Homo sapiens: one gene and its partner. The protein of the gene in region 2 interacts with the protein of the main gene of each other region in a biochemical or structural test. Each region holds a gene or a part of one and is shown on either strand. Other genes may lie near its edges.

The links. The genes of interacting proteins can lie anywhere in the genome.
Region 1: the proteins of TNRC6A (region 2) and PAN2 form a complex in vitro, tested with the Homo sapiens proteins (one study listed by BioGRID).

The regions. Positions count from the first base shown.
Region 1 is NC_000012.12:56,330,982-56,338,535, reverse strand, and holds the start of PAN2 (PAN2-PAN3 deadenylation complex catalytic subunit PAN2), read left to right. Parts: upstream 1-4,535; 5' UTR 4,536-4,674; intron 4,675-4,817; exon of another isoform or gene 4,818-5,049; intron 5,050-5,327; 5' UTR 5,328-5,441; coding exon 5,442-5,723; intron 5,724-7,554. UniProt on the Homo sapiens protein: Catalytic subunit of the poly(A)-nuclease (PAN) deadenylation complex, one of two cytoplasmic mRNA deadenylases involved in general and miRNA-mediated mRNA turnover.
Region 2 is NC_000016.10:24,823,649-24,826,748, reverse strand, and holds the end of TNRC6A (trinucleotide repeat-containing gene 6A protein), read right to left. Parts: coding exon 2,942-3,100; 3' UTR 531-2,941; downstream 1-530.

The DNA of each region.
Region 1 (7,554 bases), on a different chromosome or scaffold from region 2:
GCCTCTCAAAGCTATACCCCTACCCCACCCCAAACCTAATTTCCTCACTTCCTCCTGCTTGAGGAAAAAGCAAAACAGAGAAACATCCATTCATCTCCCAATAGGATGGTGAGCTGTTTGCAATGAAGTTTGATTCCTACCTGATGCCCCCTATTAGGAATAAACGGGCTTCTTTTTCTCAGTTGGAAACAACATTATTTCAACTGGATGGTCCTGGTTTCATGGGAGAGAATGCGCATGAAGGAACTTGGAGAACTGGGAAGCCAGTATGAGGTCTTATTGCTCCCCATTTCAGGCCTCACAGTGGAGGTTAGAAAGGCTCTTGTGGGAAGAGGGTTATTGACTAAGAACCACCTGACTCCTCAACCCTAGTGGCCCAAGATTTCATAGGCTCTATAAGAGTTGGATGATGTTTTTTTCAGGACTAGTGCAAATAAGGCCTGGAAGTTCAACTTAGACATTCCAGCACCTAGTCCCATGGCCTCATTCTGACGTCATCCAAATTGTTCTGGGACCCTCCACTGGGGTCGGGGCAGTCCCAGCTTTGGACCCCATGGCTAGGAAGCCCAGGAGTTCTGGGTAGTCGAAGGTGCACTGTCAATGACTCTGGCTGGTCCTTCAGCTTGTTGCATCCATGGGTAAAATCCACTGACACCGATTTCATCACCCTCCATGATGCAACATCGAGTGAAACAGCTAAGAGTGTGAGGTTGGGCGTGGGAGTGGAAGGTGGTCCAAAGCCGGGACTGCCCCGACCCCAGTGGAGGGTCCCAGAACAATTTCGAAGACGTCAGAATGAGGCCATCGGTGACCACACAGCTGGCTCCCAAAGCCTCCCCCAAGAGGTTGACCCTTTTCTTCTGAGAAACTTGTCCTGAATGGAGGTCTCCCTTCCCTTAGAGCTATTCAAAACTGCCCAATGACACTTCTGGTTCAAATATTATGATTCTGTAGGTATGAGCTAAGAGAAGAAAAAAAAATATTACGATTCTAAGTTAAATCTACCAAGGGCCGGGTACAGTGGCTCACGCCTGTAATCCCAGTACTTTGGGAGGCCGAGGCAGGCGGATCATGAGGTCAGGAGTTCGAGACCAGCCTGGCCATCATGGTGAAATCCTGTCTCTACTAAAAATACAAAAATGAGCCAGCACGGTGGTGGGCGCCTATAGTCCCAGCTACTCGGGAGGCTGAGGCAAGAGAATCGCTTGAAGCCAGGAGGCAGAGGTTGCAGTGAGCCGAGATGGCGCCACTGCACTCCAGCCTGGGTGACAGAGCAAGACTCTGTCTCAAAAAAAAAAAAAAAAAAATGGAAATCTACCCTTTAGATTAAACATTTCCAGCATCAGAGAATTATCTGAGTTTGGGTGAGAACTGTTTTGCCTCTCTCCCTAATAAGGTGGACACCAATGGAATAAGGAAAGGGGAGGGGGCAGGATAGGGAGTTCACCTTACTTGTGTACAACGTCTCCTATGTTCTTCCCATCTCTGGTCCCCATTCTGGGAGCCCTAAAAGATAAGAGATGAAAGAAAGATGAAAAGGAGGAGGAAGTAGAGCCTGGGGGATGGGATGAGAGGGACAAGGGTGAGTTGGAGGCACAGGGCTCTGCCTCTTTGTTTCACTTCCTGGTGCTGCAGGAGTTGGGTAGGAAGAAGGGTTGGTGGGGAGATTGTGGGACTGTTGCGTGGCAGGAACTACATCCAGGGCTACAACTGACCTGGAGCTATAAGGAGCCCTTGACGTCAGCTGGGCCTAAACCGTTATGCAAATCGCATTCACAAGACACTCCTAGGCAGGTCTTTCCAGTTGTATGCCTAGACTCCAAATCAGTTGAAGTTCCCCCAGGTGGTTAATAATGATGGCTAATATATCCAACTCTCGCTTAATGCCAAATACTTTGTCTAAGCACTTTACATGTACTAAACTATTTAATTTTCACAACAACCCTTTAAGGTAGATACTATTACCCTATATTACAGAGGAGGAGGCTGAGGTGCAAAGATAAGCAATTTGCCCAAGATCACAGAGCTTCTAAGTGGCTAGAATTCCTTTTTTTTTTTTTTTTTTTTTGAGATGGAGTTTCGCTCTTGTTGCCCAGGCTGGAGTGCAATGGTGCCATCTCATCTCACCGTAACCTCTGCCTCCCGGGTTCAAGTGATTCTCCTGCCTCAGCCTCCCAAGTAGCTGGGATTACAGGCATGCACCACCATGCCCGGTGGCTAATTTTGTATTTTTAGTAGAAACAGGGTTTCTCCATGTTGGTCAGGCTGGTCTTGAACTCCCAATCTCAGGTGATCCACCCGCCTGCGGCCTCCAAAAGTGCTGGGATTACAGGCATGAGCCACCACACCCAGCTTAAGTGGCTAGAGTTCTAATGCAGACAATCTAGCATCAGATCCTGCATTCTTTTTTGTTCTTGGTTTTTGGGGGGTTTTGTTGAGACAGGGTCTCACTCTGTCACCCAGGCTGGAATGCAGTGGCACCATTTCCGTTCACTGCAACCTCCACCCCTGGGACTACAGGCACAAGCCACCATCCCGGTCTGGATCCTGAATTTTTAATCACTGCATTACACTGGATACTGTACGCCAGGTATGGTGGCTCATGCCTGTAATCCCAGAACTTTGGGGGGCCGAGGCAGGAGGATCGCTTGAGCTTAAGAGTTCAAGACCAGCCTGGGTAACGTGGCAAAACCCCACCTCTACAGGAAAAAAAAAATTATCTGGGTTTGGTGGCCAGTGCCTGTAGTTACAGCTAGTTGGGAGGCTGAAGTGGGAGGATCGCTTGAGCCCAGGAGGTTGAGGCTACAGTGAGTGAGAGGGCCAATGCGCTTAAGCATGGGCAACAGAGTGAGATCCTGTCTCAAAAAAAAAAAAAAAAAAAGGCTGGGCGCGGTGGCTCACACCTGTAATCCCAGAACTTTGGGAGGCCGAGGCAGGCAGATCACCATCTAATATTACTGTATTAGAAACAGTAATTACAGCTGAGCTAAATAATCTATGTCATGGATGCTCTTGTGTCTCCTCACAGTATCCTTTTTTCTTTTCTTTTTTTTTTTCTTTTTTTTGAGACGGAGTTTCGCTCTTACTGACCAGGCTGGAGTGCAATGGTGCCATCTCGGCTCACTGCAACCTCCGCCTCCCAGGTTCAAATGATTCTCCTGCCTCAGCCTCCCAAGTAGCTGGGATTACAGGCTCCCGTCACCAGGCCCGGCTAATTTTGTATTTTTAGTGGAGACGGGGTTTCTCCATATTGGTCAGGTTGGTCTCGAACTCCCGACCTCAGGTGATCCGCCCACCTCGGCCTCCCAAAGTGCTGGGATTACAGGCGTGAGCCACTGCGCCCGGCAGACATGGATTATTTAGCCCAGGTTATTAGGGATCTGTAACTCTCATGGGTCTGTTAAGTCTTTCTCAATTTGAGACCTCAAGATGGAGATTTCTTAAAGTGTAGGAACTGTCTATGTCTCTCAGCATCCACCTTTTTCGGAGATTCTATATCTAATGACCTGCGAAGTCAGATCAAATCAGTTTGAGAGACCATCTGTGTTTTTCTCTTGGTCTAGGCTCTAGGTAGGATCTCTGACTGGGTATAGGACCCCACCCCTCTGAGTCCTAGAAATTTAAATTCTTGGTTCCTTTAATGAAGGTCTATTTACCAGCCTTTATTGAGAGAAATGTTATAGAATTGAATCCTCCATGAGGAATGTCTCCCATCAGAGTCCCTTTATGTGGCCTTTAGAAACAGTAATAACAGCTGAGCTAAAGTGCTCTGAGACATCTCACAACCTAGACCCATTTCAAAGTAATTAGAGTTCACAGGACCCACGAATCCTTCAGAATAACAAGTCCCAATTTGCCATGCTCATCCCCCTCTGAGGGATAACGTCCAGCCAGCCTCAAGAGCTAGGGGAATTTGATAACCAGGGGCATCTTGTTACCCGGGAATGTTACCGGGGTCTCTGGGGAGGGAACAATCACGGATGGGAGTTTCAGATGGATGCCTGTAGAAGATGCAGCCACTTGGACTGTGTCAGGAGTCCGGCTCCCGCTTCCTTTTTTTTCTCTCCCATATCTGGAAATAATAGGAAATGCCAGCGAGTTTTGGGGGCAACAGGGTCAGAGGTGGCGGAGTGGCTCACTAGGGCACCGCAGGAAGAGGAGGTAGACTAAGCCCCGCTGGGAATACCCAACAGCGACTCCTAGTGCTTTGCCTTGTGTGTCCCTTATTTTAGAGTTCCTAAAGTTATAGAAAGCATAAAAGTTTGGTTTTCAAACCTAGACGTAATTTTGTTCAAGAAGACTAAAAACAGAGTTACTTTCTAACGCCACCCAACAAGTCCGGCGTCTGGCTGCGTTTGTCCCACCGGCGCCCCGTAACCTCTTTTTCCGGCGCGTGCGTCACACGCTCTCTCCTGGGGTCGCCGTACCTGGCTCCTTCTGATTGGCTTAGATGCGCCCGGAGCCCTTCTGATTGGCTAAAATATGCCCCGAGCCCTTCTTGATTGGAAGAAGCGCCTCGGACCCCGGTCCTTGGCGCCGTAGTGGTTAGGTTGAGCCCTAGGCGTGGGGGAGAACTGGGGAAACTGGAATTTCCCGCGGAGCTGACAGCGCTTGCGCTCCCCCTACTCGTTCTAATTCCACGCGCTCCAAAATATCCGCCATGGAGAAATCTTGGTAATGACCCATTCCCCGTAAGCATCCCAGGAACACATCTGACCCTTGCCCTATCCCCCTCCTCACCGCTGCCGTGGGAGAATTCTAGATAACCGATTTTTCTGGTTCCCCCAGAGAATTCTGGGTAACTAGCCGTTTCCGTCACCTTCCCCTGCCCCCGCCCCAATTGTGGGTAACTGGCCATTATTGTTTTCCTCTAGAGAATCCTGGGTAGCTATTGGAGAGGATTCTAGGAAACTGACTTCTCGTTCTCCCCACCGTCCAATCCACCCGTTTTCACCCCCAATTCTGGGAGAAAGCACCTTAAATCCCTCTACCTAACTCCAACCCCCGCAATTCTCGCTCCCTTCACCTGATGATTCAGGGCTGAACAAGGCAAGTGAGCAGTCCGAAGTGAGAAGAAAGGGAAGTCAAGGATTAGGTTAGATAATGGGGTGGTGGAGAGTACAGAGGGCCTAGCGGAGGAGGGATAGGGACAACAGTTCTACCACCTCCACCCCCACTGCCCATCCCTCCCCCGCCTGCTTCATCCTTTGGCTGGCAGTCTCATCCCTCATGCCTGCCTCATCTCCCTCCTGCCCCCATAACCTAGAAGACCCTAAGTACCAGTACCTGGGCCTACCCTTGACTCAGCTACCTCTTTCCCCTTACAGGCCAGGATGTCCATTCTAGGCCCATCGGTGCTGTCTTGCTGAAGGTTGGGTCAGGCATCTAAAGGGACTGTGGTAAGGGAGGGTGTGACACAGGTGTAAGCTGCCATCGTCATCATGAACTTTGAGGGTCTGGACCCTGGACTGGCAGAATATGCCCCAGCCATGCATTCTGCCCTGGACCCTGTCTTGGATGCCCACCTGAACCCAAGTCTGCTACAGAATGTGGAGCTGGACCCAGAGGGAGTGGCCTTGGAGGCTCTTCCCGTCCAGGAATCAGTGCACATAATGGAAGGTGTCTACTCTGAATTGCACAGCGTGGTGGCTGAAGTGGGTGTACCTGTTTCCGTCTCCCACTTTGACTTGCACGAGGAGATGCTGTGGGTGGGGAGCCACGGGGTAAGAACTGTACCCCTTTGTGAGGGTTGAAAGATGTTGAAGGTCTTTATCTGGTCTTAACCCAAGGAAGCTGCTTTGCAGATAGCCAGTACCGAGGAGTTGTAGTGATGAGACAGCTGGGTCTGGTTGGAGGGATAAAGGGAGAATCTAGGATCTAGGAGTAAATGACATATTCTTTCTCAGGAGGCATCCCTTTTTTTTTTTTTTTTTTTCGAGACAGGGTCTTGCTCTGTCGCCTAGGCCAGAGTGCAATGGCGTAATGTGATCATGGCTCACTGCAGCCTCAATCTCCTGGGCTCACACAATCCTCCCACTTTAGCATCTCAAGTAGCTGGGACTACAGGCATGCGCAACCAAGACCAGCTAATTTTTAAAAAATTTTTTAGTCTTACTATGTTGCCCAGGCTTGTCTCAAACTCCTGAGCTCAAATGGTCCTCCTGCATAGAGCTGCCAAAGTGCTGGGGTTACAGGTGTGAGCCACGGCACCTGGCCAGCATCCCACTTTTGTCACAATTGCCCATCCAGTGTTTTGATTTATCTTGATAGTTGTACCCATCACTTAGTCTGTAGCCATCCAAATCTAATCTCAATTGCTGTTGCCCCACCTGTGTTTTCTATTTTTATTATTATAGAATATTTAATGAATGATTCTGCATATCTTCCATTGAATCATTTTGTCTTCTCTGGCTGATTTTAATATCTCTCAGAGCAGTTATCAATCTTAATTTTTTAAAATCTGTACCCGTATTGCCAATATGCTATGGTGCCCAAAGACTTTGTAAGAAATACTGTGCTGTCCGGCCGGGACCGGTGGCTCACTCCTGTAATCCCAGCACTTTGGGAGGCTGAGGCAGGCGGATCACGAGGTCAGGAGATCGAGACCATCCTGGCTAACATGGTGAAACCCTGTCTCTACTAAAAATGCAAAAAATTAGCTGGGCATGGTGGCAGGCGCCTGTAGTCCCAGCTACTCGGAAGGCTGAGGCAGGAGAATCGCTTGAACCTGGGAGGCAGAGGTTGCAGTGAGCCGAGATCACGCCACTGCACTCCAGCCTGGGTGACAGAGCGAGACTCCGTCTCAAAAAAAAACAAAAAACAAAAAAAAAAAAAACGCTGTCCTTCATTTACTGATTGACTTCTTTGGTCATGAATTGTTTTTCCATTAGAAGGGATGAATTTTTGTGTGTGATTCATTCAGTTTAATAGGCAGTGTCTACTGCTATGCTAGGCACTGTGAATAAAGCTAAATAAAACATAATCCTTGCCCTCAAGGAGTTTACAGGACAGTGAGGTAAAAAACATATACAAAACCAGATAATTTCATGGTACTAAGCGCCAGTGTGAAAATCTGTACTGGATGCTGGACAGGATGGAGAATAGTCAGAAAGGGCATCGAGGAGGAAGTAACCCTTGAACTGAGTCTTGCAACATGAGTAGAAATCAGGTGAGAAAGATGGGAAAAGGCGTCTTAGCATAGGATAAACAAAGATTCCCAAGATACTACAAAGCTTGCTGAGTACAAAATTCAGGAACTACAAGCAATTAGGATTTACCGGACTGGAAGAGGTAGACATTTATTCATTCAACCAGTGTTTTTTTGAGCCACATGCTAGGTGTCAGACCTTGCCCTAAGGTCTAGGTTTGGAATAAGCAGTAAACAGAAAAACATTACAATACATCAGGTGTTGATTAGTACTGTTAAGAAAAATGCTGGCTGGGCATGGTGACTCACACCTGTAATCCCAGCACTTTGGGAGGCCGAAGCAGGCGGATCACCTGAGGTCAGGAATTCAAGACCAACCTGGCCAACATGGTGAAACCCCCGTCTCT
Region 2 (3,100 bases):
GGAGGCTGAGATGGGCAGATCGCTTGAGCTTTGGAATTTGAGACCAGCCTGAGCAACACAGTGAAACCCCATTTCTATTAAAAATACAAAACTTAGCCGGATTCGGTGATAGGTGCCTGTAATCCCAGCTACTTGAGAGGCTGAGGGACGAGAACCGTTTGAGCCTGGGAGGCAGAGGTGACAGTGAACTGATATCCAGAGTGAAACCCTGTCGAAAGAAAAAAAAAAAAAGAAAGAAAAAGAAAGAAAAAAGAAAAAGGAAGAAAGTAGAAAGAGAAAAGGAAAAAAGAAAACAAAGAAAAAACGTGTTAAGTGCCTGTGTTAAAAAGTTTACCCTGACTCTTGGTGGCTCTGCGTGACTAGAAAGCCCCGAGCCATGGGCCCAGCATGGTCAGCTGCAGGTCTGTGCCAGACAAAGGGCAGCATCCAGGCACTGGCAGTCGGGATTAAGACCGAGAAGTAAGGGTGGCTTAGGGAATAGAGCTGTATTTATTTAAGGACTAGGCAAAGATCCAAACCACTTTAAAAAATTTTAAATCAAACACTTTATTTCCACATAACAAGCGCAAAAAACTCCCAAACACTTTAACAATACAATTAACGCAGTTATGAATTATATACTACTCAAAGCCCCAAGGTCAGAAGGTCAATCAGCTTAACGCTCCAAACATTTCCAGACATGGTTTTTCAAAGCTACCTTTGGTTTTTGGAAAAACCAGTATGGAAGTCAATATACATTGAACGCACTGAATAACATTTGCTTATAGTAAGGTGTCCGACAACATTAGCTCACACCTGGCAAGTTGGAGCATGATCTGAAGTCATACACTGAAATCCATACACAGGTTTCGCCCCCGAGCTCCTGCAGGGAGAAGCGAGGGCCGTGAAGGGGGAAGAAAAGGCCAGTCCGGGTGTGGCGTTTCTCGCTTTGTAACAGAGGTATGAGAGTTTAACACTAGTACACTGTCAAGTCATTAAGCTTCATGTTCCACATGGTTTCTTGCTGAGGCTTGAGATGGGCACAAATGGTGGGGAAGATGAAGTCACAGAAGAGTTTTGAGCAACAAGATCCCAAAGATGCTCAGAGAGGGTGGGAAGGAGCAAGCTACAGTTTCCCATTGTTCTCACATTATTTCAGGGTGAAATTGTGATGAGTTCAGATAAAATGTTCAAATATTTGCTTAGATTTTTAATCGGTTGCTCTATGAGAACCCTCATACATAGCAACTTTGAAACTTTCATTATAAAAAAGAGCCTACAAATAAATTCACAAAAAGGAGACAATTAATGTTGAGCAGCCAAAAAGTCATGGTTTATTATATCTGAAGAAATTTCATAATTCAAACACAACCAAACTGTACATTTTACAATCACATTCTATTTGTAAACAGTTAAAAGCCACTGACTTCTTTTGCATCTTAGGACACAAACAGTTAGAATCAAGGCAATGATATGATGGCAAATTCTGTACTGTTAAAATTTTTACCCTTGTTTAGTCTCTCTTCTTTGACTAAGCAAGCATTATAATACCATTTGTGGGCAAAAAAAGGGGGGAGGAAAGAAAGTTTAAAATGGTGTAACTCGTTAGTTTGCAACAACATTTAAAATTTTCTTTATACAACAAACAACTCTGTAAGCCCAATACCTTGGTTACAGTATGCATAGTTACTGATTTCGGCTTTAAGGTACAACAGTTAAACATTAACACAGTCACGAGAGAGCAGAAACATATGGAGCCACTTGATGGGATTACAAAAAATTATTACCTATTGATTATTAGCAAACCATCATCACTCACTAATAAAAAGACAGCATCTGAAAGCAGAATGTCAAACTCCAGCTTTAAGCGTTTTTTTGTTTTTTCTTTTTTTTTGGCAGAGAAAATTCTTTAACAGAGCAATATGTAGTATCAGTGCTAAAAGTTGGGGTTTTTCTTTTTTTCCTCTAAGAAACTACAAGGAATTTTTTTTTTTTTTTTTAAACTGGGGAACTGGTTTTCCTGAGAACCATGCTCTTTGATTTGGGACAGGAATAGAAAAACAAAAGAACATGGCCAAATGCTGCTCCTTTTTCCCAGAGATAGAAAGCATCTTTTAAATCATCCTCCATTTTTTTTTTGTCTTTTACATTTTTTTTAAATGATGGAAGAGTAAACATTTTTTTTTCTCAAAAAACAAACAAAAAAATCTGTAAACAAGAAGGTTCAAAGTGAGAACCTCCAAAACAAAATGGAAAGCCTATTCAAAGTGCAGGGCCCGTCCTGGGTGGCAGGTGGGCTGCAAGTCACAGCTGTGGCCACAGTTTTTCAAACTGCAGAGCGAAATTCTTTAGTTTTACAACATGAAAAAACTGGTGCAACACTTTCATTAATAATCCTAAGTCAGCATCCTAACTTGATCTTTTAAACTCCACGATACCACAATAAGGTAGGCAACATCAAGGCATAGTAGAGAGCGCACGCCTCCTAAGAACACCCTTGAGTAAACATTGACACTGGGACAGCTGCCCCCCATACTGCCGATGAGACGGAGAGAACATCATTCAGTGCAAAGGGAAAAGCTCATACGTTATCAGCCCAAAAAATGGTTTTGCAAGAGAGAAAAAAAGGGGCGGGGGGGGGGGTTGGGGAGGAATAGAAGGAAAAAAAAAAAAAGAATCCAAAGGCTAAACATGATGAATAGACACAAGCGAGCTCATTCTCTACGGTTTAGCATGTATGGCGCTATTTGGGAGTGTAAATAGAGTAGATACCTTTTCACATTATAATATTGGCCTGCATGATTCAAGTATTCAAACTGATATGTTTTGGGGAAAACAAAGTGGAAAATGTGCAGAGAATAGCTGTTCCCACAGGCGGCCCCTGGCTGCAGGCGGCGAGCCCCACTTAGTGCTCCTTTCCCTCGCGTCTGAGGTCCCGGTCGGTGAGTCTGCATCTACACTGTTACATGGACTCTCCACCCCCACCCAGGTGGTCAACAGAAAGAAAAGCGTTAATGGGAGATGGGCTGCTAATTCCTCGGGGGTCGCTGCTGCTTGGGGGACCCCACAGGCTTGTGGAATAATGCGGGGTCCCCCAGAGTGAAGTGCCGTGAAGGTCTCC